Homo sapiens: one gene and its partners. The protein of the gene in region 4 purifies or fractionates together with the protein of the main gene of each other region. This does not show direct contact. Each region holds a gene or a part of one and is shown on either strand. Other genes may lie near its edges. The genes, in order: MFN2, PTPN1, POMK and GHITM.

Region 1 (7,628 bases), on a different chromosome or scaffold from region 4:
ATGTACCCAGAACCTGAAGGTATCGAGTTGAATCATCATGAAAAGTGACAGATAAGGAAAGTCCTGATTTCTTTAGCTTGGCCTCCGCATCTGATCTTTGGGCAGCCCAGGGCCACAGCTGCCCAGTTCCCCATGGGCACTAACCTATCATGTCCTGCTGCATGGTCTGCAGGGAGTTGGTGATGGCCGTGGAGCAGCGGTCAGACATGTTTCGACCCAGTCCTTCCTCTATGTGGCGGTGCAGCTCCTGCCACCAGAAGAGGGAAGTTAAGAGAAGCATGTCCATCAAAATTCCCTTCAGGCCACATCCACCAGGTGACCCCAGAAGGCTGACGGAAGCCTGGGCCTTGTCTCTGTGGCTTCTACTGTCACTGCTGGGGGGCCCTGACCCAGACCAACAGGGGTTGAATCACTTTTGGGGGCCTCCTGCCAAGAGGACCTGTTGCTCCATGACTCACATTCTTATAAACCTTGAGGACTACTGGAGAAGGGTGGAAGTCCATCTGGTAATCGTCCACCAGTACAGAGAGGCGCCTGATCTCCTCGGCCATTGCAGTCGACACCTACAGCAAAAGGAAGCACACTGTTAAGTATCAAGGAAGACCAAAGTTCACTCCTGCAGCACCAGGAGAGATCCTAGCAGATGGCACATCCTTCCTCTCAAACCAGCAGCCTCCTCAGCTCCTCTATGGAATTAAAGCCTCTGAAGTGAGAGGGTCTGGGAAACTGGCTGATCAAACGCCCACATGATCTGTGGAGGTCCAGAGGAAAGGGAACATGCCCAGCATCACACAACCCGACAATGGAACCCAAACGGCAGCTCTGTATTCTTGAAACAGGGCCACAACTTTCTTCTGAAAGGCTGAGAAGTCCCTAAGAGGAGGAGGTCTGCTTTCTTCTGGACTCTACTCGGAGTCCAAATCTTCCCAGAATGCCTCCTCCTCATTTCTCACCTGCCTCTCCACTTCCTCCGTAATCTGCTTAATTCGCAGCTTATAGTCTTGAGCCAAGAGCTCCAGCTGTTTGTCAATAAATTTCAGTCGGTCTTGCCGCTCTTCACGCATTTCCTCGCAGTAAACCCTGAAAGCAGAGTACTGGTGAGAAATCCATGTTCCTGTCTGACTAAGCAGAGGAGCAAGAGGGGATGCCAGAAATCCCACGCCGCCCTGCCCGCTATCTTGCCTGGCAGGGCTGCACACACGCACCCAGGGGCATGGCCTTCCCCTTCCCAGGTAAGAAGAGGACCCTGCAGCCAACCATGCACTCTTCAGTCTTCGATGTGGGTCAGGTGGTGGGCACAAAACAGGGAGGGCGCTTTAAGGGGGTTTAAACAAATTCTGCCAATTAATATAGGGAAAAAAGCTCAACCTCACTAGTAATCACAGAAATGATTTTTTTTTTTTTTTTGAGATGGAGTTTCACTCTTGTTGCCCAGGCTGGAGTGCAATGGCACGATCTCCACTCACTGCAACCTCCACTTCCTGGGTTCAAGCGATTCTCCTGCTTCAGCCTCCCGAGTAGCTGGGATTACAGGCATGCGCCACCACACCCAGCTAATTTTGTATTTTTAGCAGAGACAGGGTTTCTCCGTGTTGGTCAGGCTGGTCTTGAACTCCTGACCTCAGGTGATCCATCCGCCTTGGCCTCCCAAAGTGTTGGGATTACAGGCGTGAGCCACCATGCCCAGTTGTAAATGAAATTTTTAAAGGCACTATTTTCTACCAAGGCCTGGCAAAAATGACCAGGTCTGAAGTTCTGGTGAGGGCTGATGAAATGGAAGGCCTATGGACAGTACTGGTCATGCAATGAATGGGTACGGCTGTTCTGAAGAGCATCAAGAAAACTGACTAAAACTGGAAACGCGTGTACCCTAAAACAGAATTGCCACACCCCTAGGAACTCACCCCAGGAAGACTCTTAAAAAGGTGCACAAGGGGACACATGAACAAATGTCCACTGCAGTAGGGTTTCCAATAGCAAAAAAAAAATCTAAAATTCCATCCATAGGAAAATGAGGCATATTCACAATGGAATATACTACAGCAGTTCCGATTCATAAACAAACTACACATACTAACAAGGATAGAGGGAAAAACGATGTTGAGAAAGCAAAGCCAGGTACAGTGACAGACAGTGTGATGCCACATCTGTACATCTGAAGCATGTAAAAACCTGACATATTCCTCAGCATTTATGTAAAAAGTACTGTTTGGGTGATAGAACAATGTAAATTCATGATTATGGTGCCTCAGGGCAGAGTGACACTGGGACAAGTGCAAAAGAATCAAAAGGGAACTGAACTTTTTAAAATTTTAACTTAACATAAACAACTGAGAAAGTCAATTCTGTGTGATAGAAGCAAGGTGTTTTCATATTATTCTTTAGTGACAGGGTCTCACTCTGTTGCCCAGGCTGGAGTGCAGTGGTGCGATCACAGCTCACTGGAACCCTGAACTCCTGGGCTCCAGTGATCCTCCTGCCTCAGCCTCCCAAGTAGCTGGAACTACAGGTGTGTGCCACCACACCCAGCTGATTTTTAAAATTCTTGTAGAGATGGGATCTCACTATGTTATCTGGGCTGGACTCCTGGCCTCAAGCAGTCCTCCTGCCTTGGTCTCCCAAAGTGTTGAGATCACAGGTGTGAGTCACTGCTCCTGGCTGGAATGTTGTTTTGAAAAATGTGTTCAGGCTCTGAGAATGGCTGCAGAGCTCAGCAGGGCATGGGCCAAGACCTCCAACACAGGGAATCGTGCTGCACAGACCAGGTGGGGTGATGAAGCACCCAGCCGCCCTCCTCACCAGGCTGTCTATGTGGTTCTAACATGGTCTGGTGGCCAGGGAAAGGGCTCTGGATGGGAGCCCAGAGACTCAGCCCTGCCATCAAGGCGTGTCCTAACTGCCCAAGGCAGGGGTGGAGCACCCTTGTCTCGGCAGCTCTCTCCACCTATCTGCAGTCTTGGACTCTTACTGCTGCTCCCGAGCCGCCATGTGCAGGGAGTCCATGATGAGTCGAACCGCCTCTGCAATCTGCTTGGCCCGGACCGTGTGCTGCTCAAACTTGGTCTTCACTGCAGACTGGGAGATGCACTCCTGGAACACACAGAGGCACGGAGGGAGGTGGGGGCCACCAGGGGCCTACAACCAAGGGCCAGACTCTGGTTTTCACTGCCAGGGACACAGCCAATGGGAGCTGGGGAGGCACAGAATCGCCAGATACCAGAATCAGAGGACTCACCTCAAATCTCCTCTCAAAATTCTGAAACTCAAACATCCTCACTTGAAAGCCTTCTGCGAGAGCGCCCCCTAGGAGGATTGTACTGCATTAGTCCAGAAACAACTTGGCAGCAGAGGAAAACGATGAAATCCCCAGAAACCAAGCCACTGGCTAAAGAGCAAGAGCCTCTCTGCTCTTCTCAGCATCCCCTTCTCAGAAGGATTTTCTACTGACAGACTCCTCAGCACGAGACAAAATGTCTCAAACATCAGAGAAAAGGAGGACATCTGTTCTCATCATTACCTCCTTCAGGCATGCCCTGGGCTTTCTGAATCCTGGCGTTGAGCACCTCCTTAGCAGACACAAAGAAGATGCGGTCCCCGGCCTGGGATCGATCCACCACGCCCAGCTCATCCACCAGGAAGCTGGTACAACGCTCCATGTGCTGCCGCCGCACCTGGAGCCCAAACAAATGTGTCCAGAGTGAGTGTAGGTGGCCCCACAGCCCCCACCTGCCTCTTTTATTAAAAGAATAGGTCATAAGAGGCTGGGCATGGTGGCTGACGCCTGTAATCCCAGCACTTTGGGAAGCCAAGGCAGGTGGATCACTTGAGGTCGGGAGTTCAAGACCAGCCTGGCCACCATGGTGAAACCCTGTCTCTACTAAAAATACAAAAAAATTAGCCAGGCATGGTGGCAGGCGCCTGTAATCCCAGCTACTCAGGAGGCTGAGGCAGGAGAATCACTTGAACCTGGAGGCGGAGGTTGCAGTGAGCCAAGATAGCACCACTGCACTCCAGCCTGGGCGACAGAGTGAGGGAAAAAAAAGAATAGGCAATATATTCACATGGCTCAACAGCCAAAGGCACAAACACATACACAGTGTAATGTCCCCCACTATTCTGCTCTCTCACCACCAAGTTTCCCAGACCAACGTGTGGGGGTTACTTGGCAGTGAGCGTGCCAAAGATATTTTATGCATATACAAGCAGAAATGCTTAAACGTGCCCTAGACTGCCTCTTGTTAAGCCTATATAGTGCCTCATTTTGGTGCCCTGGCAGGAAAGGAACCCTGAGGTCAAGAAACCTAAATCTGGGACCTATACTCTGACAAGCTGTGTCCTCCTGGGGCATTGTTTATAAAAGGAGTGGGCATCACTAGAACATCCCTCCTGGCTCTGACATCCTGGGGTTCTACCGATAAAATGTGACAATAGCTTCTTGTAGACACCTACCACGTGTCAGGTGTTTTTGACAGATTTCATCCTCTCAACAAGTCTATTTATCACACCATCACACTGGCCAGGAAATTGGATTACCAGAAGGGTCAAGGAAGCTAACAAAGTCACACTGCCTAGTGTCAGTCACAAGCGGGCACAGTGGCTCACGCCCGTAATCCCAGCACTTTGGGAGGCCGAGGCGGGCGGATCACTTAAGGTCAGGAGTTCAAGACCAGCCTGGCCAACATGGTGAAACCCCATCTCTATTAAAAATACAAAAATTAGCCAGGTGTGGTGGCGGGTGCCTGTAATCCCAGCTACTCGGGAGGCTGAGGCAGAATTGCTTGAACCCTGGAGGTGGAGGTTGCAGTGAGCCGAGATTGTGCCACTGCACTCCAGCCTGGGTGACAAGAGCAAAACTCCATCTCGAAAAAAATAAATAATTTGGACTCTGGCCTACTGACTGCAACTGCATGTTTTATCATCCCATATTGCCATATTATCAATCTTATTACCCTTTATTTGTTTAATTATTTTTTGTGAGACGGAATCTCACTCTCTTGCCCAGGCTGGAGTACAGTGGCACAATCTCAGCTCACTGCAAGCTCCACCTCCCGGGTTCACGCCGTTCTCCTGCCTTAGCCTCCCGCGTAGCTGGGACTACAGGCGCCTGCCACCATCACACCCGGCTAATTTTTTGTATTTTTAGTAGACACGGGGTTTCACCACGTTAGCCAGGATGGTCTCGATCTCCTGACCTCGTGATCCGCCCACATCGGCCTCCCAAAGTGCTGGGATTACAGGCGTGAGCCACCGCGCCCGGCCTACCCTTTATTTTTTTGGAGATGGCGTTTTGCTACGTCGCCCAAGGTGGTTTCAAATTCCTACTCTCAAGGGATCCTCTCTCAGCCTATAGGTGTGCACCACCATGCCGTTTGTTACCCTTTTGTCTTTCATTTCACATATTTAAAGAGTTGTGAGGCCAGGCGTGGTGGCTCATGCCTGTAATCCCAGCACTTTGGGAGGCTGAGGCAGGTGGATCACCTGAGCCCAGGAGTTCAAAACCAGCGTGGGCAACATGACAAAACCCCGTCTCTACCAAAAATACAAAAATTAGCCAGCCTCATAACCCAGTCTCTAAATAAATAAGTAAATAGCTAAGAGTTGTAAGTCACCAGTAAGAACCAGTTATTCTCCATTCCTCTTTCCAGCCTCTTTCCCAGAGGCCTCCCTAGAGCTGAGCCTGTTCTGTATTAATTCCTCAGAAACCAAACTGAGCACCGGCACTGAAGATGCACTAATGCAGCAGGGATCCTTTTTAGGCCTAGGGGAGAGTGGCTTGAAGAGGGGGTGCATCCAGCAAAGTGGATGGGAGAGGGGAAAGACCACCAGAAGATACCACAGAAGAGTATTTGGAGAATTCTTTGGCAATAAAATTAATTCAGGGAAGTCACTAGATCCAGGGGTGCAGGAAGTGGCCCCAGTGGCAGGCAGTGCTCCCTCGGGGTTGCATTCCCCAAACTGCCAAACAGAAGCACGAACCTCCTCCATGTACTCGGGCTCTGAGGCAGATGCATCCCAGCGGTTGTTCAGGATGAAGATGTTTGGCCGGGAGAGACGCTCACTCACCTTGTGGAAGAAGTGCTTTTCCTAGATAAAGGGTAAGACCTCGGTGGAGCAGGAGCTTGACAGCCAAGGCCCCATCAGCTGCCTGCCCAGGGGGTGCTGGGAGCTTGGGAGAAGGCAGAGGAGGAGTTACCGTCTGCATCAGGGTGGACTCTGAGTTGGCCACCAGCACAAACACATCAGCATCCAGACAAAACTTGTCAATCCAGCTGTCCAGCTCTGTGGTGACATCAATACCAGGGCTAAAGGTGACAGGGGTAAACCAAATCATCAGGCAGAGCAGGAGCCCTATTCTTCCTGCTGAGAACAGACCTGGGACTTGTGAGGCAGGCAGGTCATGGAGGAGAAAGCCAGGGACGGGAGAGAAATCAGGCCTGGCCCTCATTAACGGATTTTACTTCCCATTTCCTATCCTTCCAGATTGCCTGGAAATGAGTGTTTTGTTTTGTTTTGTTTTGTTTTTGGATATAGAGTCTTGCTCTGTCGCCCGGGCTGGAGTGCAATGGCACGATCTCGGCTCACTGCAACCTCCGCCTCCCAGGTTCAAGCGATCCTCCTGCCTCAGCCTCCCAAGTAGCTGGCACTACAGGCACGCACCACCATGCCCAGCTAATTTTTTTGTATTTTTAGTAGAGACAGGGTTTCACCATGTTGGTCAGGCTGGTCTCGATCTCTTGACCTCCTGATCTGCCCGCCTCAGCTTCCCAAAGTGCTAGGATTACAGGCATGAGCCACCGTGCCTGGCAGAAATGAGTGTTTTTAAACACATATATCTATTGCTTTTATAAAAACAGAATTACTTGTAATTCTACTTTAAAGATGATATACCAGGCGGGGCACAGTGGCTCATGCCCGTAATCCCAGCACTTTGGGAGGCTAAGGTGGGCGGATCATGAGGTCAGCAGTTCAAGACCAGCCTGGCCAACATGGTGAAACCCCGTCTCTACTAAAAATACAAAATTTAGCCAGGCATGGTGGCGGGCACCTGTAATCCCAGCTACTCCAGAGGCTGAGGCAGGAGAATCACTTGAACCCGGGAGGCGGAGGTTGCAGTGAGCCGAGACTGCACCACTGCACTCCAGCCTGGGTGACAGAGCAAGACTCTGTCTCAAAAAAAAAAAAAAAAAAAAAAGATGATATACAATTAAGGTGAAGTTGTGACTTGATGTGAGTCCAGATAAACACTACAATACTGTACATGTTGGTATAGTTATAACCAGTCCACCAAGCCAAGGCAAAGTGTTTCTTCAAGGGAAATAAAATACACCTCTGACTCCGCCACAACTCCCCACCCCCAGTACACATGCTGGCACTGGGCTGAGATTGAGAACCTCCCCCACCAACTTTTGAGCATCCCTCCTATCTTTTACAGACCATCCCTGGGACATCTGCAGGGTACTGATAAATAGGTATAGTAACCAGACTCCAGAGGAAAGCCAAGAGGCCAGAGGATTTGGTTGAGCCCATCTGAAAGGTAGTAATACTTAAGCAGAGCAAGGATGGGGCCCAGGGACCCTGGCCTAGATTATCCAGAAATGGAAACCTGGTGCCTTCCAGTTTGGACCTCC
Region 2 (7,628 bases), on a different chromosome or scaffold from region 4:
ACCACGCCCGGCTAATTTTTTTTTTTTTTGTATTTTTAGTAGAGATGGGGTTTCACCATCTTGGCCAGGCTGGTCTTGAACCCCTGGCCTCGTGAACCACCCACCTCAGCCCCTCAAAGTGCTGGGATTACAGGTGTTAGCCACCGTGCCCGGCCGTTAAAATGTATTTTAAAATTGAATAAGAAGCAAGCATGCCAAATGCAAGTTTTCCTTTAATCCTTGAAGGTGTGGGTTACCGCCCACTGACACCCTCCCTCACACCTGCTCACCTCTTTCACAAGGAACTCATTCCAGCCTTGTGCTAGAACAGACAGCTATGGCTGAGAAAAGCCTTTTAAAAACAAAGTCTGTTGGAGCAAACAGATCCTAACATCAAAACCTCTGAGCTGGCTGTATTCACTCTGCCAAGCAAAAAGCGCACAGCTCTTCTGCTCTGTTGAAATTCAGTTTCCCTCAACAAGCAAATAGTTTCCCAGAAGTCACTCTTAATGTCAGGCTTGCAAATGCTAAAAAGCATTCTTTTAAAAGGCTACTGCATAAATCCTCTAGCACATTCCAACACACTGCCCATGTTACTCCTGAGAATCTTCCAGAAAGCACCTCCATCCACCGTACTCAGAACCCTCTGCCCCATCAGGGCTATGGCAGGGCTGGTGACTCCGGCGCGGTCACCACCAGAGGGCAGAAAGCACTCACATCAGCTGCACTGCTACCATCCTCAAGAGCCAGGCAGCCCGAACCCCTTGCCTACGTCCTGGTAACCTGTGCTACATTCTAGATCTTACTTCTACTATTTTTTTTATTTATTTATTTTTGAGACAGGGTCTTGCTCTGTCACCCAGGCTAGAGTGCAGTGGTGCAAGCATAGCTCACTGCAGCCTTGAACTCCCGGGCACAAGCAATCCTCCTGCCTCAGCCTCCTGAGTAGCTGGACTATAGGGGAGCACCACGATGTCTGACTAACTGTTTTTGTTTTTTTGTAGAGACGGGGGTCTCACTATGTTGCCCAAGCTGGTCTTGAACTCCTGGCCTCGAGTGATCCTCCTGGCCTCAGCCTCCCCAAGTGCTGGGATTAAAGACGTGAGCCACCGCACCTGGCTTACATCAACTATGAAATGAATGGCAGGAGCCATGATGATTAAAAAGTAGTACTTGAGAAGGGGAGGCATGGGGTAACCCAGAAGCAGATCCCTCCCCACCCACACAGCCCTGGAGCCCCACTCCACATGGTCTCCCTACGGCTCCACCTTCCCTTCAGATAAAGCCCGTGCTACACACCCATGGTAACTGCTAACCCTTCCCGTATAGGACCTCCCAGAACCCTCGCAAAACCTGAGTTTGACAGAAGAGGAAACGGAGACACTGTGATGAGCTAGTAAGGTGGGGCCAGGATTCGACCCCAGTTAGGTTCTAGAGGTTGGTGGCTGGCCACTCTTCACTGGTGCCCCCAGGTGCTGCCGCGCACTCCCTCCACTGTTCCCCAGAATGACATGAACACCCCCAAGTTACGGATCCAGGGGAATTATTCCAAAGCCCCAGGAGCAGCGCGTTCAGCGGCAGTGCTGCTTGCCACAATGCCTTGCCATGTTCCAAGACCAACTTTTACCAAGCAAGTAGCTGGTGTTATAAACTCTTCCCACAACAAAAAAACCCAAGACCTGGCCCAGAAAACTTTCACTAGCTATGAAACTGGAGTGAGCCCCTATACCCCTTCTTCCCTCTCTTCAGACTCGAAGACTGAGGACCACAAAGAAGGCAGCATGCTTCACTGGGACTTGCAGGCTGCCGCTCCAGTCCCTCTGCAGCTGCACAAGCAGGAACCAGTCTTTTGGGTAAGAAACTCTCCTTTCCCTAAGAACTGGTGTTAACTGTTGTTAAAGGTCAGAGAGAGCACTGTGGCCTCCACCCTCCCTGGGCACTTGGTAGGTACACAAGTAAGCTCCGCTCACCACAGTGCCCAAACCACATCTTGCTCGGGGTATACAAAAGCCAGGAACACTGACATTAGGTAATATCACCCAAGGGATAAAGGAAGAGGCATGTGAACCAGTAGCCGCCTGAAGTGCTGAAGTGTGTGCTATACTCACTGTAAGGTTTTCCAATTCTAGCTGTCGCACTGTATAATATGACTTGATATCTTCAGAGATCAATGTTAATTTCAAATTTGTGTCTTCAAAGATCATCTCTTTTTCTTCTTTTTGTGGCCAGTATTGTGCGCATTTTAACTGGGGAAACAAATAATAGTGAATTATTGTGAGCAATATGGCAGTTTTTCTATGGCAGGAGGCTTGGAGCACATCCCACAAGCTTCATGATAACTCAAAGGCCTGGGGGTTTCTGAACATGGAAGCCATGGTCAGCACAGATGCCTGCCTCATGGGGAGATGGGGGTGGGGGCACGAAGCTGCTGACCGGGGCAGGTTGTGCAGACAGGGCTCAGACTTCCAAACCCATCGGCTCCCCGGTCAAACGTGGCAACGGGATCCTGCAGGGCTCTGACGCTTTCTCACCGTCTACGAGGTGAAGCCAGATTGAACAAAAGGCTTTGAAACTCCTCTGTGTAGCCATTTCAAACATTACCCAGGACCTGATCAGGCTGCTGGCATAGAATGTAGGTGCCTTACCCTGCACAGAAAACTCACAGGCAATTAAAAATAAAACTGGGAGAGACAGCAGGTGAGGCCCTTTGGAGAGGCTGAGCAGTTATCACCAAATACAGACTCCCTTTCAGAGAAGGCTTGGAGACAGGCTCCCCAGGGCTTGCCCTTTCATTCTGGTTTGGTTCAGTTCATTCAGAAAAATACTTTTGATGTTCTATTTTGATAATCTCAGACACTATCTGATGTTCTCAGTTTAAATGTAGCTCATTAAATTTTTCTTTAAAACAAGAAAATTTATGAAAATTTGGTTTCATTTAGGGTCTAAGACAAAAACTGACTCGAATTTAGTGACATTTTACTTGAACTAAGTTTCTGCCTCAGTTACACAAATGTTTCTGCTCATGGATAACTGTTGTGGACAAAAATGGCAGGTCAGCAGGGGCAGAGCTACCGGGTCAGCCTGACCATGTGCCTGGACAGAGGGAAGCTCAAAGCCCTTATGATTTTCAGCAAAAGAAATGTCAGCGTGTGTCAACAGCTCTTTGGCAAATGACACTGGCAGTTCACGTGCACTGACCCACTCAATACCTCCTCTGGGGCAAAGGATGGTGTGGGTGAAGGGAACCACTTCAGGGCCAGCTGTCTGTCAGAAGACACTGCTGTGCCCAGCAGTGACAAGGTGGACTATGGGGGAGGGCTGAGGGGGAAATGCTACGGACATGCAGCAGGAATTCAGAAGAGGGAAATGTTTCAGGTCAGCCAAGGTTACAGAAAAGAGAGATCAGAGAAAGCTCTGTGCAAGAGGCAGGTTTTGAAGGATGACTAGGATTTCCTAGGCAGTGACTGCAAATAAGAGGCTGAAAAGAGCAGCTGGAGAAGGGGCCAGCAGAGGCCCAGATCACAGACGACTGGCAGCAGGCCCAGGGACCTGTGGCATCATCTGGGGGCAATGAGGAGCCAGGAAGCACGTGAGGAGGGTGAATATAGAACCACAAATGCCTATTGGTCCTGCTCTACTGGAGCTGGAAGCTGCCCAAAAGACAAAACCAAAGCAAAATGTGGGAGAAACAAATTAGGAAACACCAGGTTGTGGTGCCAGCATCACAGCAAACTTCACAGTGCCAGACCAGAAGCCAACAGAGCTTTCTCAAGAGTCTGGACACAAGCCTGTCTGAAGTCTTAGCCAGTTTCATCCATGTCACCTTCCTGGATCAATGATGAGTTGCCAAAAGTGAACTCTTGAATGGGGACAATCTGTCACCATTGAAGCAATTCTGCCACTTGGCATGGAGGCGCTAATTACATGGCAAGACCCCCACTTAGCCAAAGTGGGTGTGGCAGCTAAAAGCAGGAACTTAGAAGAATGTGAAAAGATGAATTAATCCCACACTTCTAACAACTAGATCTTATAATGCCTCAAGACCCCAGAAACAAGAGACTGATCTGACAGGTTCCACCCCACCCGTGCTGGGGTGGGCATTCCACAGAGTGAGCAGACAGAGAAGGAAGCGAAGAACAGAAATGCAGGAGGAAGAGGCCACCCTTCCTCATCTCATAAGCAGGGCAGACGAGTCTTAAAGCTCACCTCCAGACAGCAAGCACTCACTTTCAAAACCAAACCTAATGCTTAATAACCCTCTGTAATCTGGGTAAAGACTAAGACTTTGGAACTGTACAAGTGAGGAATTCTGTCATGCAACTAAGTGTCAATAACCCAATATTTATTTTTAAGGACTCTCAGGTGTCTACAGCAACAAGCTATGCTCTGTCATTTCCAATAGAAATTTTTGTTTTAAACACACAAAATTTTTAAAAGGCACAAGATCACATTTCCAGTTACCCTATTACATTGATATATACGGCCATGAAAAGTAGATGGATTTTTATTAGAACACAGTACTTCACCAGGCCTCAAATTGAGTCCTATCTTGGGCTGGTACCAGAGGAACATGGCAGTGCCAACATGCTAGCATCTCTCATAGTTGCTGTTTCCACCATGAAGGCAGATGTTAAACAGTCCTTGGGGCCTTCCCAAACAAGTGGGCAAGTGGTGTTTGGAAAACCTATGAAAGACATCTACAGTAACCCTGTGACGGGTAATTTGGTTTCGCCAAAAATTATTAACACAGAGAACTAAGTAAGTAATTCTTAACACAGAGAACTAAGTACGAGAGAAAAATGAATTATATGGACCCTGTGATACAAAATGCAGTGTCTTGTGCATGAAAGCACCTGAAAGCAAACGGCAGCTTTAGTGAGGATTTCAGGAGGGAGATACGGGTGAGATTCTGCAATGGCCAATTAAACTCACCTTGCTTACTTCCCCCTTCTAAACAACAATCCCAACCCTTACGCCATGGTGCAGCCTACACTGAGGTGTCTAAAGTCAATCCTTAAACAGAACCAGTGAGAACTCTAGCCATCTGGATGACCCCAGTCTAACACACACAATCATCTTCTGCATAACTGGTTTCCAGGAAGCCCAGGGTCCCAAAAGATAACAGGCATGTTTGCCAAAAATAAGAGGGAGCATCCTACACTATTTGGTGAAGGAAGGAAATCAGAAGACAAGTATGCATTAAATGAAAACTCCCCAAAAGCTGGTTTTACCACAAGCTGTGTGGATCATTTATAATTAGATTAGCTGAGCAAATAAGATACTGTAACTTCTCATGATTTCTCCCAGCCAGCCCTCTGGGAGGGATAATGCTGATACAGAATTGAAAATGTTGATCCCAAAGAAACTTTAACAATCTCAAACCATACATTGCTTTTCATGCCAATCTGCACGCCCAAGTAATCCTCCAGTGGAATGGGATACTTAACAAAGGAAAGCAGGGACTGCTGGCACAGTTATCACAGTAAACTACAGCAAAGCCAACCAGCCATGTTCTCGATGCCACCACAGTAACCCAAAGGGAAAGGTTGTCACAGTGGATCTGTGGGCCATTTGTGGTCAGTCTTGAGTGGGAGACAATGAAGCACAGGGCCTGGTGAGGCTGGAACACATAACTACAGCACTGGACACTGCTCAAATACATAACTACAGCGCTGGACACCACTCCTTGCTGTAATGTGACAACAATTGCTAAAGCAAACCTTGTGCTCACAGCAAAGAGGTTTTGCCAAACACTTAGCAACAAAGAAATAAATAAGAAGCAAATGCTACTATATCTGGTAATTTCTGAATAAATGTCTTGATTTAAAATTCCCAACCCTCAATACCATCTAGAGCGGTGGTTCTCAACCGGGGGCAATTTGGCCTACCAGGGGACGTTGGACAAAGTCTGGAGTCTAGACAGAAACACATCTGACTGCCACATCTGGGGAGGGGGTGCTACTGGCATCTGGTGGATAGAGGCCAGAGATGCTGCTAAACTTCCTACAGCGCCCAGCACAGCCACTCCCTGCCCGGATCCCTAGCAGACAATGATCCAGCCCAAGTGTCAGTAGTGCTGAGGGTCAGAAGCCTGCAGATGGAGCTATGCTGAAGGCTTCCACAGGCCACCAGGCTTCCCCTTCCCTCTAAGACAGTGTGTGCTGTGAGCACCTGATGCTTTGTTTCTTTACTCAAAATTGCTGACTAGTGGTGAAGGGTGGGGGTTTGCTTCACATTTGTAACTTCACATTTTACTAATCAAGCTACTAAGGAGGGAAGAAAAAATTTAAAAACCACCTTTCACTGAAAAAGTTTTTTTCTAAGACAAGATACATTATATCATCAACAGAACACTTAGGCAAGCTCCCTGTCTGTTATTGTTGGGCAAATAAACACTTTCATTTTTTAAAAAGTAGGCAAGGGTAAAAAACCCCCAAAAAACCCCAACCCCAAAACAAAACAAACCAAACCCCTATGATTTTAAACACGCGCTGTCCTAAGAGGAAGACTTTCTGCGAGTAACTAAAGCCGTTTCTTTGTGTGTGGTGGAGGCAGAGGCTTCGTGGTTAATGCTTCAAGTTTTCACTGCTGAAGTTTCCTTTGATGTGTTCCTTCTTAACACTTGGATTTTTTACATTCTAGGGCCATGACTGTGCTTTTTTTGGAAAGGTGGCCTCTCTGGAGCCCTCACCTTCTTCTGTGGCCGGAGGCAACCAGGACAGCTGTGAGAGCCGTGTCCTAGCTGAGCCTGGACCTGGCAAGGCCCAAGGACACCCAGTTCCCTGCTCCTGGGCCACACGCTCCTGCTGGTCTCCACGATCCTCAGCCCATCTCCTCCTGGACCCCGCAGCAGGGTTGGCAGTGTTGGGGAGCAGCGAGGGCAGGGAGGCCGAGGAGCCTGTGGCCCTGCTGAACACTGGCCTGCGCCTGCACAGGCAGATGGTCTAAATGGGATGGTCTACACAGGATGGTCTACACAGACAATCTACACAGGACGGTCTACAGAGACAGTCTACACAGGACAGTCTATACACGACGGTCTACAGAGACAGTCTACACAGGACAGTCTATACACGACGGTCTACAGAGACAGTCTACACAGACAATCTACACAGGACAGTCTACACAGGACAGTCTACACAGACAATCTACACAGGACAGTTTACATGGACAGTCTACACAGGACAGTCTACACAGACAATCTACACAGGACAGTCTACACAGACAATCTACACAGGACAGTCTACACAGGACAGTCTACACAGGAGGCCGGCTGCCCAGAAATCGGCTATTCTCAGCTATTCCAACAGAGTGAGGAGGGCAGGGGAGAATGCAGGCAGTTGGGGAGCTGGGGGCAGCCGTCCAGGGGTGCCTGCAAGTGGGATGAACGTGGGCACTGGGACTCCTCGGCCCAGAGAACATGGTAAGAAACTAAAAACAGAAAACTTTGTCCTGGCTAAAGTTCCAAGAGTGGTGAGAGGTCTGTGTCCAGGGGCCTAGGGCCAGACCTGCAGGGTTCCGTAAGCCACACCATGTATTATCCTGTGAGGCAAAGGGAACCGCACAAGGGTTTTCAGCTGGGAAGAACCGTGGTGAGACTTGGATTTGAGAAAGCTCATTCTGAAAGCATGGTACAAAATGAACTATGG
Region 3 (7,628 bases), on a different chromosome or scaffold from region 4:
TAAGGGCTGAAACCTATGCCTACTGCAGCACTATTCACAATTGCCAAGATACAGAATCAACCAAAGCAAATGTGGTGCACATATGCAATGGAGTACACTTTGGCAGTAACAAAGGATGAAATTCCGTAATCCGTGCCAGCATGGATGGAGCTGGAGGACACTGTGTTAAGCGAAATAACAGGATGACAGCAATCGCAAATGAACCCGGACTCACTCTCTTTACAGCTCCTTCCCCAACACGCTTCAGCTGTCTCACTTCTGTTCTCAGCTCCTCGCAGGACAGCCAAGGTGAGCAGTTTTTCATCTGTCCTATCCTGAAGTGACCATAGGGACAGTGTGTGGGGTCCACAGTGGATTGTCGAGGAGCGATGAAGAAGTGGTCGAGGCAGAGGTAGAGCAGAGTATTCATCAGGGCCATGATCAGCAGCAGCCCAACAGCTGGCGGCACCTCTCGGGGGGCGAGGCCTCTCCTGCTGTTCTGGGGCTGCTTTTCCATGTTGACGGCCTCTGCAATTTCCTAAAATACACAATGAAACAAGAAGTCATGACAGTCAGCTTTCACTTCCTTTCATTTCCAAAAATGTGTTCTGATGCCTCTTCTACTCAAGGGTCCTGTAAGCTGCAGCGTTACCGTGGGGATTAAAGCAGGTATCGAACACCAGGCTTATCCCAAATGCCCAATGTTAGCTGTTTCCATAATCATTACTTTTTATTACAAACTAAAATGCGGGTTCCTCTAGATTAGGTTAGGTGGGAGGTGTTTGTGTCTGACTCTGTCCGACTCACAGTAGCATGCATTAAATAGATGCTCATGAATATTCAGTAAAATGAAAGCAAAATGTATTAGTCAACTGGTGGGACAGGGACAGAGGGTGGACAAAGGACAGCAGAAGGAGGCTGCTTAGGGTAGCAGGTGGAGGCTGGGAAGCTGAGGGCCTCTGTCGAACTCAGCTAAGCAGCTGTCCTGTTCCCTGGGAGGTACTCAGAATCCCCTCAACAGTTTTAAGAAATAAAAGCTACTCTTCAGCAGTTATGAAAGGTAGATTTGGGGTGAAAGAGACTGAGGCTGGGAGACCAGTTATTAAGAAGCCCTGGTTATGACCACGGACAGGAGCTGACAAGTACATGAGCTAGAATAACAGCGATGAGATTGGAGAGATGACCACTCAGATGTCACACCAGCGATAAGTAACCACTGATAATGTGTGGGCTCTACCGCTGGAGCCGTGCAAGGCCATGGTGGAGGGGCCTGGCTGCGGAGAAGCCTGAAGTAGGACCGTGGATGGCAGAGGTGATTTACAGAAGCAGAATGGAGCAGAATGGAAGTATATGGAGACTTTAACAGTGGATGTGGCCATGCCAGTGGGAGCCAGCTAAACAGCACTGGAATGCTGGGGCACTGGGACAGAACTGGGTCAGAGACAGCTGTGACATGCAGGGTTACCTCCCAAGCGCATCTCCTTCTCCAGCTCAGGTCTCCATCCAGGTACCTGGTCAGTCCATACTCTAGTTGGCGCCCAGGGACTGGTCGGGAAACACCCTGCCACAAAGTACCAAACAGGAAGTGTGTAAACAGAAACTGCAGCTATGTACCCAGACAAATCGCCATAGTCCAAACGGTCCAACTTTCCCAGGGCCCTCCTCCTGCCTCAAGTCCAGGTTTCCTCAGGTTCTCAAGCCCCAGGACAGAGCAGGGCCGTGGGGAAGCCCATCAGAGTCTCTCTGTCCCAGTCTGCTCTCTTCTTCTCCATCACTGACTTCCAGCTGCTCATTCCCGCAACATGTCCTGAGCAGCTTCTATGTGCCCAGCCCTGCAGTGGGTGCTGGAGACATTCACACACAGTGAATTACACCAGCATGGTTCCTATCCTGCTGGAGCTTAGGGGAAAAGTCTAGTGGGGAAGACAGACAATAAACAAGTAAACAAATAGGTCTATCATCATCCTGTGATGGGGGTTCAAAGATAGAGAGTAACTGTGTAGGAACTCCCTGGAGGAAGCATCCCAGGAGACCTCTCTAAGGAGGTGACCTTCACACTGTGACTAGAGGCCTGAGAGGAGCCAGCCATGAAAAATCCAGGACAGGAAGCTTGTTCCTACCTCCTCCTTGAGAAAACAAAATCCACTCCCATATACAGAGCTGGGACAAGACGTCAATGAAACCACAAAGTTAACAGGAAACGGCATTTCTCCTTAGAACACACTGCAGCCATAAAGTGTCAAAAACCCCCTTTGGATGAAGACTCCTTTTTTACTACCTAGAAATTCTGTTCTCTACAATCACAGACTACCAGAAATTTTGCAGTTTGAAGTCTTATCAGTTGGGATAAAACATCCCATGCTTTCCTGGAGGATCAAAGTCACTCTGACACACAGAAGCAACCTCAGTTCCCAAACAGGGCAGACCTTCAGATAAGGAGTTTCTGGAGATAATCCTGCACATCTATGTTAACCTGGTAGTCTCCAAGGAAAGAGGACCACTTTGCAGTCCAGACTAGATCTTGGCCCCTTTACACTCAGTTCTACATGGCTTTGAGCCCATCAAAACACTACTTCATTTAAATTTGCCTAAACTTTACTCATCTCCAAAATTCTATGATTTTCTTCCTTTTTTTTTTTTTTTTTTTTGACATAGGGTCTGACTCTGTCACTCGGGCTGGAGTGCAGTGGTGCAATCATAGCTCAATGCAGCCTCAAACTCAAGCAATCCTGTCACCTCTGCCTCCTTAGTAGCTGGGACTACAGGTGCGCATCACCACATCCAGCTAATTTTTGTATTTTTTTTTGTAGAGACTGGGTCTCACGATGTTGCTCAGGCTGGCCTTGAACTCCTGGCCTCAAGCAATCCTCCTGCGTCAGCCTCCCAAATTGCTGGGATTACAGGCATGAGCCACTGCACCTGGCCTTTTAAATTTATTTTTATCCCCTCCACGGCTCTACTCATCCCCTGCATCAGTATTCCCTGGAACCTCAACACATTCCAGTACCCCACAGATGCAAGCACACAAGCTCATACTGTTCTGGCGCTCTTGAGCGTACTCCAGACCTCACACTGCTGACTCTCCCAGCAATGGCACACACTTCAGTGCCTCTATGGCTCTAAACCCACAGTAGCAGCCTCTAGAACGCCTTAAACCATCCGGCTGCCCCTTCCTAGAGTGTCCTCGTGCTCAGGGACACACGTGCACCTCACACCAACTTGACCCTTAGCGCACCGGGCCTCTGACGGTACCAAGACCCTTCCCGCACCACCACCACCCCCTACCTCACAGAGATCCACAATCCTCATCCCCGCTAGCACAGGCTCAGGTCTCCCACCGTCCTCCCTCCATCAGATCCCTCCATGAGGTCCCTCCAGCTCTGTTCCATTAGCATGCACTGGGCTCCAACTACCCAGACCTTTATTAGCGCATGCACACACCCACCACGGCACAACCCCCACAAGCGCACACCCAGCACTTGAGTCCTTCAACCACCTCCCCTCCATAAGCACCCCATTCTCTCCTACCCTGCAGGCCCCCACAGACACACACACAGCACTAACACCATACACACCCCCATCACCACACACGAGGCCTCAGAGGCCTATTAGCACACACCCTGGTGCCTCTACCACACTATCCCCCATTAGCACACACACTGGGCCTCTCTCCAGCCATAACCCCTATTAGCTTGCTTTGGAACTTCCTCAACACCCTACCCCTGTGATACACCCACGGGTCCCTCACCCGCTCTGCTGCCCACTTCCCTAAGCACACACTGGGCCTTGAGCCTCACCTGCCATAAGGCTCATCACCACATGCTCTGAGCCCTGCTCAGCCCAGGCCCCCATTGGCAAAGCTCCAGTCTCTCCCGGCTCCACCACCCATTCCCATATCCTCTGTTCCTCTGACCCCCTGCTCCCTATTTGCACTCATGGCACTTCCATCCCCAGCTCCCTGCCCCGGGCCAGGTCAGAGAGGCCCCGAAGGACTCCTGCCCTGTGCCCTCTCAGATGACTCTCTGTCCCTCTGATGAAGATATGCAAGTCCCGCCAGTATGCAGCCTCGCTTATTGCAGTGAGTCAATAAAAGTGATAGGTGTGTCCCGAGTGGCCTTAGGCTAGCTGGAAGCTCACACTCTCCTTCTCCAAACATGTACCACCTGTTCCCCCACCTTCACTCTCAGCTGATCATCTAACGAGATCATCCTATTTTACTAGAAAAACAGAAGCAATCAGAGAGCATTTCCACCAGTTCCCAAGCCCCACCCCAGGTTCCTGCACTCTCCTATTACTACAAACAGTGTGTTACCATGAAACTGGCCCCGAGCCCAGCTCAGGCAAACCCCACGCCCAGCTCTGTCCTCTCATTCTCTCCAACTCACTGCCACTGCACCCAAACTGACCTTATCACAGTCAGCACAGGTGGCCTCCACATCACTAAACACAACAGTCAAAGCACAGCCCCAGTCTTCCTTGATCTATCAATAGCATCTACCGTGATTGATAACTCCCTCCTTAAACGCCTTATATAATTGGTTTCCAGGAAACTACATTCTGGCAGCTCCTCATCTCTGAGTCCACGTAGTGGGGTCCCCCAGAGTTCAGAGCTCAGGCCTCTGCCACACTCCCTGGGAGAGCTCACCCAGACTCAGGACTTTTCATCGCTGCCTGCTGACAACTTCCAAAGGTAAAACTCCATTCCCAGCCTCTCCTCAGAACCCAAGGCTTGCTTCCTTGACATCTCCATGTGGATGTCTGGTGAACAACTCAAAAGATTCAAAAAAAACAACTCAATTTAAAAATGTGCAAAGGGTCAGGCATTGGTGGCTCACACTTGTAATCCCGGCACTTTGGGAGGCCAAGGTGGGAGGATCGCTTGAGCCTAGGAGTTCCAGACCAGCCAGGGTAACATAGTAAGACCTCCTGTCTACAAAAACTAAATTTAAAAATTAGCCAGGCATGTTGGCCTGTGCCTATAGGCCCAGCTACTCAGGAGGCTGAGGTGGGAGGATCATTTGAGTCCAGGAGACCAAGGCTGCAGTGAGCTGTGATCGTGCCACAACACTCCAGCCTGAGTGACAGTGAGACCCTGTCTCAAAAAAATAAACAAATAAAATTTTTAAAATGGGCAAAGGACTTGAACAGACATTTCTCCAAAGTAGATACACAGATGGCCAACAGGCACATACATGAAAGATGCTCAGCTTCACCAGTCATCAAGGCAAACGCAGATCAGAAGTGTGACAAGATGGCATTTTACACCCATGAGGATGGCTATAATACAAAAATCAGTAACAACATAGGGGAATGTGGAAAAACTGAAATCCTCAAACATCACTGGTGAGAAAGTAAAATGCAGCCACTGTGGAAAGCAGTCTGGCCGCTCCTCAAAAGGTTAAGCACAGTCACCACACGACCCAGCAACTCCACTGCCCAGTATGTACCTATGAAAACACACACACTCACACACACACTCATACATGAATGTTCACGGAAGCATTATCCACAACTGCCAAACAGTGGAAACAAGCCAAGTGTCCATTGGCAGATGAATGGATAGACAAAATGTGGTACATCCATAAATGGAATATTATTCAGCCATAAAAAATAAAGCACTAATTCATGCTGCAACATGGGTGAACCCTGGAAACATCATGCTCAGTGAAATAAGCCTGACAAAAAGGCCACATGCTGTAAGATTCCATTTACATGAAATGTCCAGAAACAGCAAATTCAGACACAGAACATAGATTTGTGGCTCCCAGAGGCTGGGGAGGCAGGGGGTGGAATAGCTGCTGACAGGGATGGGGTCTCTTTTTGGCTAAAATGTTCCTGAATTAGACAGTGATGATGATTGTACAACCTTGTAAATATGCTAAATATCACTGAATTGTACACTTTAAAATGTCAAATGTTATGGTTTGTGAATTATATCTTCCTTGAAGTCTCCCCCTAACATTTAAAAAGATAAAAGCATTCCCAGCTCTCAGGCTACGCAAAAACAAGCAGAAGCTGTGGTTGGCCAAGCCCTGCCTTAGGTGATGGCATTCCTCCAGGTCTGCCAAAGACCCAGGTAACCTCACCCACACCTGGGACACTAGCAGCCATCTGAACTCTGCTGCTTTCTAAGTCTGCACTGCAGCCCAGGTCTCTCCTATGCTTTGCTCACTGGCCTATCAAGGTATGGGATGTCCACTGCAGAACTCCCCAGTCCCCACAGGCCCCTCCTCCAGGGTTCCCTCTGTCATGGGCTCATGACCCAACCACCCACTCAAGTTACAGACCAGGTGTGTGTGACTTGATTCCTCCCTCCCCTAAACTCTAAACCAACCGATTACCACATGCAGTCAATGCTCCCACCAAAACCTCCCTCACAACTGCTTGCATATCTCCTTCCTTGCTGCCCTTCCCCTCCACCCCGCTGCGTGAGCCAGCAGCACCTCTCACCTGGGTTTCCACAATAGATTCCCAAGCAGACGCCCAGTTTTTCCTCTCTTGCAGTCCATTCTCAGGATTACACAGCAAACAGGATCCTTTTTCTTTAAGTGTTTCACACACAGAGAAAAAAAAAATCATAAGCATTCATCCAGCTTTGTCAAGTCACACTGCATCATTTTTTCAGATCTTTTTTTAAAGAAATTAAATATTACAAATAGAGTTGAAGACCCTCTGGACTCCTCCCCATCCAATTCTACTCCCCCTCAAGAAGTGATCACTATCTTCAAGTTGGTGGACATCAGAGATTCTCAAACTGTGCTCCCCAGACCTGTGGCGTCATAGCCCAGGAACCTGGGAGAAATGCAAATTCTTGGGTCCACACTCCAAACCTACTGAATCAGAAATGAACATCTGTGTTTTAATAAATCCTCTAGGTGATTTGGATGCATGCTAAAGTCTGAAAACCACTGGTGTATATAATTCCTATACATGCTGTCTATCTATCTAATCGATCTTATCTATTTACCTACCTACTTATCTATCTACTTAAGACATGGAGTCTCACTATGTTGCCCAGGCTAGACTCAAGTGATCCTCCTGCCTCCACCTCCCAAGCAGCTGGGACTGACTACAGGGATGGGTTACCAAACTCCGCTTCTCATACATGCTTATTTTCACAAGTATGTGCCCATAAATCATACATATGTTTTCAAGCTTTATACAAACAGTGATGGGCTGGTATTATCCTCCTGCAACCAGTTTTTTTTAAAAGCTCAACATTACATTTCTGAGATTTATCCATGCAGATGCACAAAACTCAGTTCACTATTTTCAACTGGTTTGACTTTTCCACAATTAGTGAGACAAGCTGTGTATACATCTCCCCAGGCATACATGGAAGTTTCTCTGATACATGCAGGGAGAGCTTTCTTTTTTTTCTTTTTTCTTTTTTTGAGAAGGAGTCTCACTCTGTCACCAGGCTGGAGTGCTATAGCACAATCTCAGCTCACTGCAACCTCTGACTCCCTTGTTAAAGGGATTCTCCTGCCTCAGCCTCCTGAGTAGCTGGGATTACAGAGCTGGGATTACAGGCACGTGCCACCATGCCCAGCTAATTTTAGTATTTTAATAGAGACGGAGTTTCACTATGTTGGCCAGATGGTCTCAATCTCCTGACCTCGTGATCCGCCCACCTTGGCTTCCCAAAG
Region 4 (7,628 bases):
GCCAGCTGTGTACCATGCAGCTCTGATGAGAAGAGGACCCCCTAATATTGTCAGAGGAGCCACCACTGCACCCATCACACCTGGAGAAAGAGGAAGTGCTCATTAAGTATTTACTAAATAACAAGCAAAAGGAAAATATCACTTCTAACATGCCACTTTATATTATACCTTACTGTTTAAGCACTATGATTCAAAAAGTTCTGCCTTTAGATAATACTACCCCCACCAAATTCTACAGCCCAAATTGGTGACTACTCAAATTCTATATCACAACATTAACACTATTCCTAATCAATCACACTCACAAGCAAACACTAATCTACTTATTTAGTAACCATCAAATTCCATGTAGCTATTTGAATCTGAGCTTACCACTAGTTTCTACAACATTCATATAATAATTGAGATAAACAAGCTTAAAACAAATAACTCAAGGTCAAACCTACTGCTGTCAAAAGGGAAAGCATATGATGATAAACTTAAAATGTGGGAACTTCTAAGACAGACACTGCTGTTTCTTTATGTAATAAGGACTGCTAACAGCTTATAAATAAGTAATTTTAGTTGTCAGATATTTATAAACAATTTCGTAAAAAATTTACCAGTAATTCAACAAAGGTAAATGGAACTCCTTAATTGAAAAAAAACTTAGATAATGCATTATTTCAGTGCTAAGAAGAATAAGTTACCTTTTTCTTAAATGTCGTTTACCTCATAGACTAGGCACAAAGCTATCTTTATACTGAATTTTCAATACTAGCTTAAAGAATAACATTTCTAGATCAAGTTATATGGTTAATAAGGTATACTATCTCATGATGATGAATAATTTAAAAATACTTTTTGCTCTAGGCAAAACAGTGGGTGAAATTTCTACACAGAACACTTCTATTAGGACTCCTCTCAGTTTTTTGTTATTTCGCAGCAACATTTTTAGCACAACTTTCTCTATCCTCAGTTTTTAATTTTTCTAAACATACCAGACAAAAACAACTCTCAAATGATGCGTACTAGATATAAAACCCTCCTGGTATCGAACAAAATACACAAAAGTAAATCTCTGCATATACTAGACTGTCAGAAGATACAAGTTTCGTATTGAAGATGTCCATGGTCTTAGCAAAATCAACTTTTCAAAGCAAAGGTCTGGCAATAATGCAGCCAGTAATGACTGAAGAAAATGGTGTTTTCTAAACATGAGGCTTAAATTCCATGTAGGTCATTTACAACTGTGAAGAGCCACCCAAAAAAGGTGGTAGTCAAGGTTGTCTCGTAACAATTTAAAACAGAACATACCAGAATGTAGCAACCAAGCAAGATGCTTTGGGCCTGGGCTCTGGTCATATGGTATTGATCGTACCAGCATTCCAGCTCCAACCATGGCTGCAAAGGTCACACCAATTGTCTGAAAGACAAGTACTATTAAGAAAAACTGATCTTTATATGAAAACAAAGCAGAAACCCACAGGTTTGAAGTACAATTAGTTACTTCTAATAAACTAGTTGTAAAAATATTAAAGATAATAAATCAAAGCTTAAGGCCAGGCGTGGTGGCTCACGCCTGCAATCCCAGCACTTTGGGAGGCTGGGGCAGGTGGATCACCTGAGGTCAGAAGTTTGAGACCAGCCTGGCTAACTGGTGAAACCCTGTCTCTACTACAAATACAAAAATTAGCCAGGCGCAGTGGTGCGCGCCTGTAGTCCCAGCTACTTGGGAGGCTGAGTGAGGTGGGAAAATCACTTGAACCCGGGAGGTGGAGGTTGCAATGAGGCAAGATCGTGCCACTGCACTCTAGCCTGGGTGACAGAGCGAGACTCCATCTCAAAATAAAAAAATAAAAAATAAAAAATAAAAAATAAAAACTTTAATTTTTCTGGCACATTAAAAGCTCTGGGTTTATTTCAGAGTTTTGGCTAAGTTAGCACGAGTGCCCCCTACTGCCATATATGAGGTTTTGCAGACAGCTTCAAATGCATGTCTTAAGCTTGAACTGGCAACACATCTTTTAACAATTTTACTCTTGTTGGACAGAGGTGAAACAAAAACCCTTTAGGGATCCCAAGATAATTAACTCTTAATTAAAAAATATATTTTTGTATAGCACAAATAGCATTTTCTTTAAAATCAGTGATGCTTACAAATTAGTAATTTTTAAAAAAAATATATATAGCACATCACTTTGAACTCCATATTTGCTAAATGAAGACTTGAAAAATAGAAAGTAGATTATCACAGCACATGGAAAAGAAAAATGAGAAATAAGATTCTACACTTCTACCCTTCCAGGTTTATGGCTAATTTGGTCCTCATTCCTTTTCTTTGCCTATCTTAGATTTCCAGTGTTATAATTAAATATTGCTTGTGTATGACAAGAAGAATGTATTAACATGTAATGGAAATAAGATGGTGCTAATCTCCAAGAAATTTAAATCAGAGATTGCAAACTTGTAGCCCTTGGAATCAGGCCACAGATGTTTTGTTTGGCAAACTATGTTTAAAAAAACAAACAAAAAAAAAGAACATGGTGAATGGTTTTAGTTGAAAAGGTTAACTCTAGATGTCAGTAACCTCTAGATGTCAACAATCTCCTGTGTGACACACTAGGCCTCCTCACTCATCTGTATTATCTGTCTCACCTATGAACATCAAAATATTCAACCTCTAATATAAAGTACAGGTAAACCAAATAGCTGGTTTTGCCAAGAATGGGAAAACCTTAACATGAAAAAGCATACTGAGCTGGGTGTAGTGGTATGGACCTGTAATGTCAGTTACTTGGGTGGCTGAGGTGAAAGGACCACTTGAGCCTGGGAATTTAAGCCAAGCCTAGGCAAACATAGAGATCTAGTCTCTATTTTTAAAAAACATTAAAAAGAAAAGAAAAGCATATCGAGCTCCACTCCACCATTTTCTAACGAGAAATAATTACTACAAACTATTTCACACATCCTCTGTGGACAGCAGCAATTAAATTTTTTTAAGATCTTCTATGATCCAGTCTCACTCCAAACTCTGCATTCCAACCATACGGAACTGGCACAGCTGCCAACATGCCCCAAAATTTCAGGCCTCCTTAATTCAATCCATCATGCCTAAGAATATCTCCTTCCATATCTGGTCGACTTACTCTGGTACTGTCTCATCTCAAAAGCTTTTTCTAGTAGGTACCCTGGCTGCCCAAGAGCAAGATCAGATACCTCTCCTCAGATGCACTTGGGACAAACTTTGACATTATCTGTGTGTCTATGTGTGTGTTTGTATATATATGTCTGTCACACCCAAAAGGTTACATCTTCATCTCTGTAACACTTGTCTTTGGCTTTCCTATTTTCTGTATTACTAACAGTGGAAGAGGGTAATCTTTTGCCCAGAAGGGACTGAGGATATGGCCCAAACACAAAACTTCTTTGAAGCCTCATTTTAGGGCCTAAAATTTTAGGTAAATATTGTCATGTTTATTACAAAAGTATTGTTTTAAATTATTTGCTTCTGATTAAAACTGACATCCCCAGTGAAACATTCTGTGCCTTTGTGAACCTCTGGGCTGGGAGATTCATGACGTCTATGTGAAAAAGCATGATCCTAAGAATATATAAATATCCAAATGGCTGCTACTGTAAATGGTTATCCTTTAGTAAAGTACAACACAGTGAAAATAATATGGTTTTCGTCCCTATGTGGGGAATCAGTGTTACATGAACTCTCCTTCCCCTCCAGTATCACACTCTGCTCTAGTTCAGGTTCTTATCATCCCTCATTTCAGATCTTACAAAGGCACAGCTGGTACACCTGCTCCATGTCTCTTCCACATTGGTTCTAAAAACTCAAATATAAATCACGCTTTTGTTGTTCCAGTATCTCCAATGGCCTCCGACTGCTTAGGTTCTCTCCTCAGCTTGACAACTGTATCCTTTCTAACCACGTCTTCTTTACCCTCCAGACCTCAAACACTTGAATTTCCCTCTAATGGGATTGTAAGTCACCTCTGAAATTAGGTTTTCCTACCTCCTCTTCCCTTAAACTGTTTGGTAAAATTGGACCGCCCTTGTCTACTTAAAAAAATTTTTTTTTAATTTTTAAAATTTTCTATTTCTTTAAAAATTACAGACAGTGTCTCACTATGTTGCTCAGGTTGGTCTCAAATTCCTGGGCTCAAGCAATCTTCCTGCCTCAGCCTCCTAAAACGCTGAGATTACAGGTGTGAGCCACTGCACCTGGCCCTCTTGTCTACTTCTAAAATAAATGAGACATGTTAGCCTTCAACAACCCTGATGAAATAAATGTCTCCTTCACGGAACTTGCCTAACAGTCCAAGACAGAAACTCTCAACTGACTTTGCACTTTCTTATTGCGTATCTGTGCCACTTATTCCAGTTCATCTCTTCTACCAAATAGCAGGAGAATAGGGGACACATATTCAAATTCTCTTATCTAGCAAAATAACAAGGGCTCCAGAGAAACCGATTAAATATAAAATCTTCTATAAGGTCAAGAATCTTAGGAATAATAGTAGCAGCACTATTCTGCTCTTAACTGCATAGGCATTTCCCTCTGACTTCTAAGATGATTTTGCATTTGCTTTATTTTTTTAGTAAACTGCTACAAATTAGAGGCTGTCTGATATCTGCTGCTAGACAAAAATGTTGTCTCTGTAAGTTTGATTTCTAACTCCTCTGGTATTATTCGAATACATGTTTAATAAAGAATAATAGCTGACCTACCTAGAATGAACTTCCTACTTTTATCTCAGCTGCACTAATACAGGTTGAGTAACTCTCATCAGAAATGTCTGGGACCAGAAGTGTTTCAGACTTCAGATTTCGGACTATTTATCATTACACTTCATTGTTGTTAGGGTTCAGGATCCCTAATTCAAAAACCCAACATGTGAAATGCTACAATTTTCTTTGAGCATCATGTTGACACTACAAATGTTTTGGATTTTGGAGCATTTCTGGATTTTAAATTAGGGATGCTCAACCTGTAATTCATACATTATTTGAACAAAAACTTGTTCAATACAGTATTCTTTCCATTTAATAACCCTTCCCTCCAATATATTTTATCTAATCTTTTGATCTTTAGATGAAAAAGGAAAACAAAAACAGCTGACTTACCACCCAAGAGCCTCTCATCATGAAGTTCATGAGAACAGGCGTTCTGCTGATTGCTATGGCAGACAAAGCTGTTAAACCAATACTCCCTGCTAAGTACATATAGGTGGAATGAATTCTATCCTTGACATACTGAGGCCAAATTCTGTAAGAAACATGACATGATTAATCTATGAAATTACAGATTTGATTTCTGGTTGAGTCACACACTAGCTGGGCGACCTCGGGATAAATCATTTTACACTTTAAATCTTATTCACTTCATTTATCATGGAAATAATTATGATAATTATGCATACTTGGGAGTTACTGTAAGGACTAAATGAGATAAAACATACAAGCACATATAAAAAACAACATATTTTTGGCTGGGTGCGGTGGCTCATGCCTGTAATCCCAGCACTTTGGGAGGCTGAGGTGGGTGGATCACCTGAGGTCAGGAGATCGAGACCAGCCTGGCCAAAATGGTGAAACCCCGTCTCTACTAAAAATACAAAAAATAGCCGGGCATGGTGGCATGTGCCTGTAATCCCACCTACAGGAGCCTGAGGCAGGAGAATTGCCTGAACCCAGGAGGCGGAGGTTGCAGTGAGCCAAGATCGCGCCACTGCACCCCAGCCTGGGAGATAGAGCAAGACTCTCTCTCCAAAAAAACAAACAAACAAACAAACAAAAAACATATTTCATATTTTCTCTTTGCTTAAACACATATAACCTTGCTAAAAGATTTTTATTTAGATTTGAATAAATAAATGTCAAAGAAGCAAAAAGAGATTCTCTATTTGTGTGTATACACAAAGACTAGACACAAAACATTCCAAAGTGACTAAAGATAGGAATGAGAAGAAAATTTGAATTTTTGTTTTAAGGCTGGAGTTGTTTAGGAACAGTTTACTTAAAACAATTTACTTACACAGCCTTTTCAATAGCTCCAATCTCATTAGACAGTCCCAAGCCATAGTAGCACAATGCTCCAAGACCAACAGCAGCCCCTCCAGCAACAAACCATCTTCCCATCTGATCAACTGCAGAACACAGAAGGAAATGCAGGTTAGTACTGGCACATCTGGACAAAGCCTTTAAAATATTTATCAAGGGAATCAAATCATGTACCATATTTAATAGAAGCCATAATCAGTGCATATGGGGTACAGAAATTGCCTCAATGTTAGGTAACCAGTAGAAAAAAACACTCCTGAAACAAAGGTGTAAAAATCAGTACAAAAAAGAAAGGATCAGGCTTGGTGAATCTTCAACCTCCCTCCAACAATATTTGAGGGAGCAGTATACCTGTAGACGTGGAGCTACTTCTGTGATACCTATTATTTTACTAATAAGAGGTTGAAGTATATTCACATGACATTCATGGAAAGTAAAAAATGAGAAGGAAATGTTAACAGTCATACCATACTGCATGGTATTAACACAAATGATGCTTTACGTGGAAATCAAGAAAAAAGAGAAAATATAATCAGTGTTTATGCAGCAGAATCAAGTGAGAGGAGGCTCCCGTTTTAGGGTACTGAGAGGCAACTAATCAACTCTAACTCAATAGAGGTATTCATAAAGGGCATCTTATTCTTTTAGTCTAATTCGTTTACTAAGAATATTACTAGGCTGTCACTACATAATTTGCATGATTTGGTCTCTAGGGTCAAATCAGAAAGAAATGACCTGAAGGATACTGATTAGGGCTCTCTCCCACTGTAAAGACATTTTGCAAGATTATTAAGGAGCAGTGGTATTCTTTGAATAGCTTTAGGATGATTAACAATCTAGTTTCTGAACTTGCAAAGTTGATATCCAAACTGAACCAAACTGGCAATATATTAAAGTACTGCCCTCCTGAGGCCCTATGTGAGCAGTGAGTTAAAGGATTCTTCTTGGACAGCTAGGCTTTTATTAACATCTATGTGTTGGTGATTTATTCTTAATCTGAAACATACACAAATATTATATGCTTGAATGAGGATTCTACACACTTAAAATGAACTTTCTCAACAGAGTATACCTTTTGGACCATGGCATATTAATAATCCTTTTCTTTAAAAAAAAGGAAAGTAAAATTTCCACTGGAAGAAATATGATTGATAACCACTGAATCCAGTGCAAAGTACCAATCTTTTCTGGGTCGTCAGATCTCAGAATAATAATGTGGTCTTCCCAGAAAATGCACAAATACACATATATTTTTAGGAAGTTGTTCATGGACCTCTTAAAACATATCCATAGATTCTAGGTTAAAAACTAAAGATAGCCACCTACTTTTAAATATTTTTTCCATCGATGGTTCCAATGCTGCCTCTTTGAGTTCTTGGCCAGTTCTCCCACGCCGGATCCCAATTCTTGTTTTGGTGGCATATTCCTGACACACATGCAAACAAAGACACGTACCACCCACATGAAAACAGAACGTTAATAAAATAAAATGCAAGATCCCTTTACACTAGAAAACTCTAGTTAAAGAAACTTGGTACTTTCTATATACCTAACTTCACTATGGAAATTTATTA

The links.
Region 1: the proteins of GHITM (region 4) and MFN2 purify together in Homo sapiens (affinity purification with mass spectrometry; 2 studies listed by BioGRID and IntAct, with this or other methods). This does not show direct contact.
Region 2: the proteins of GHITM (region 4) and PTPN1 purify together in Homo sapiens (affinity purification with mass spectrometry; 3 studies listed by BioGRID and IntAct, with this or other methods). This does not show direct contact.
Region 3: the proteins of GHITM (region 4) and POMK purify together in Homo sapiens (affinity purification with mass spectrometry; 5 studies listed by BioGRID and IntAct, with this or other methods). This does not show direct contact.

What each region holds. Positions count from the first base shown.
Region 1 is NC_000001.11:11,997,444-12,005,071, reverse strand, and holds part of MFN2 (mitofusin-2), read right to left. Parts: intron 6,303-7,628; coding exon 6,194-6,302; intron 6,085-6,193; coding exon 5,977-6,084; intron 3,672-5,976; coding exon 3,518-3,671; intron 3,304-3,517; coding exon 3,236-3,303; intron 3,091-3,235; coding exon 2,969-3,090; intron 1,081-2,968; coding exon 954-1,080; intron 564-953; coding exon 459-563; intron 248-458; coding exon 145-247; intron 1-144. UniProt on the Homo sapiens protein: Mitochondrial outer membrane GTPase that mediates mitochondrial clustering and fusion. Mitochondria are highly dynamic organelles, and their morphology is determined by the equilibrium between mitochondrial fusion and fission events.
Region 2 is NC_000020.11:50,569,114-50,576,741, reverse strand, and holds part of PTPN1 (tyrosine-protein phosphatase non-receptor type 1), read right to left. Parts: intron 2,226-7,628; coding exon 2,088-2,225; intron 1-2,087. UniProt on the Homo sapiens protein: Tyrosine-protein phosphatase which acts as a regulator of endoplasmic reticulum unfolded protein response. Mediates dephosphorylation of EIF2AK3/PERK; inactivating the protein kinase activity of EIF2AK3/PERK.
Region 3 is NC_000008.11:43,096,417-43,104,044, reverse strand, and holds part of POMK (protein O-mannose kinase), read right to left. Parts: intron 6,522-7,628; 5' UTR 6,430-6,521; intron 1,541-6,429; 5' UTR 1,445-1,540; intron 518-1,444; 5' UTR 497-517; coding exon 215-496; intron 1-214. UniProt on the Homo sapiens protein: Protein O-mannose kinase that specifically mediates phosphorylation at the 6-position of an O-mannose of the trisaccharide (N-acetylgalactosamine (GalNAc)-beta-1,3-N-acetylglucosamine (GlcNAc)-beta-1,4-mannose) to generate phosphorylated O-mannosyl trisaccharide (N-acetylgalactosamine-beta-1,3-N-acetylglucosamine-beta-1,4-(phosphate-6-)mannose).
Region 4 is NC_000010.11:84,142,507-84,150,134, reverse strand, and holds part of GHITM (growth hormone-inducible transmembrane protein), read right to left. Parts: intron 7,481-7,628; coding exon 7,381-7,480; intron 6,141-7,380; coding exon 6,029-6,140; intron 5,261-6,028; coding exon 5,119-5,260; intron 1,406-5,118; coding exon 1,297-1,405; intron 81-1,296; coding exon 1-80. UniProt on the Homo sapiens protein: Plays an important role in maintenance of mitochondrial morphology and in mediating either calcium or potassium/proton antiport. Mediates proton-dependent calcium efflux from mitochondrion.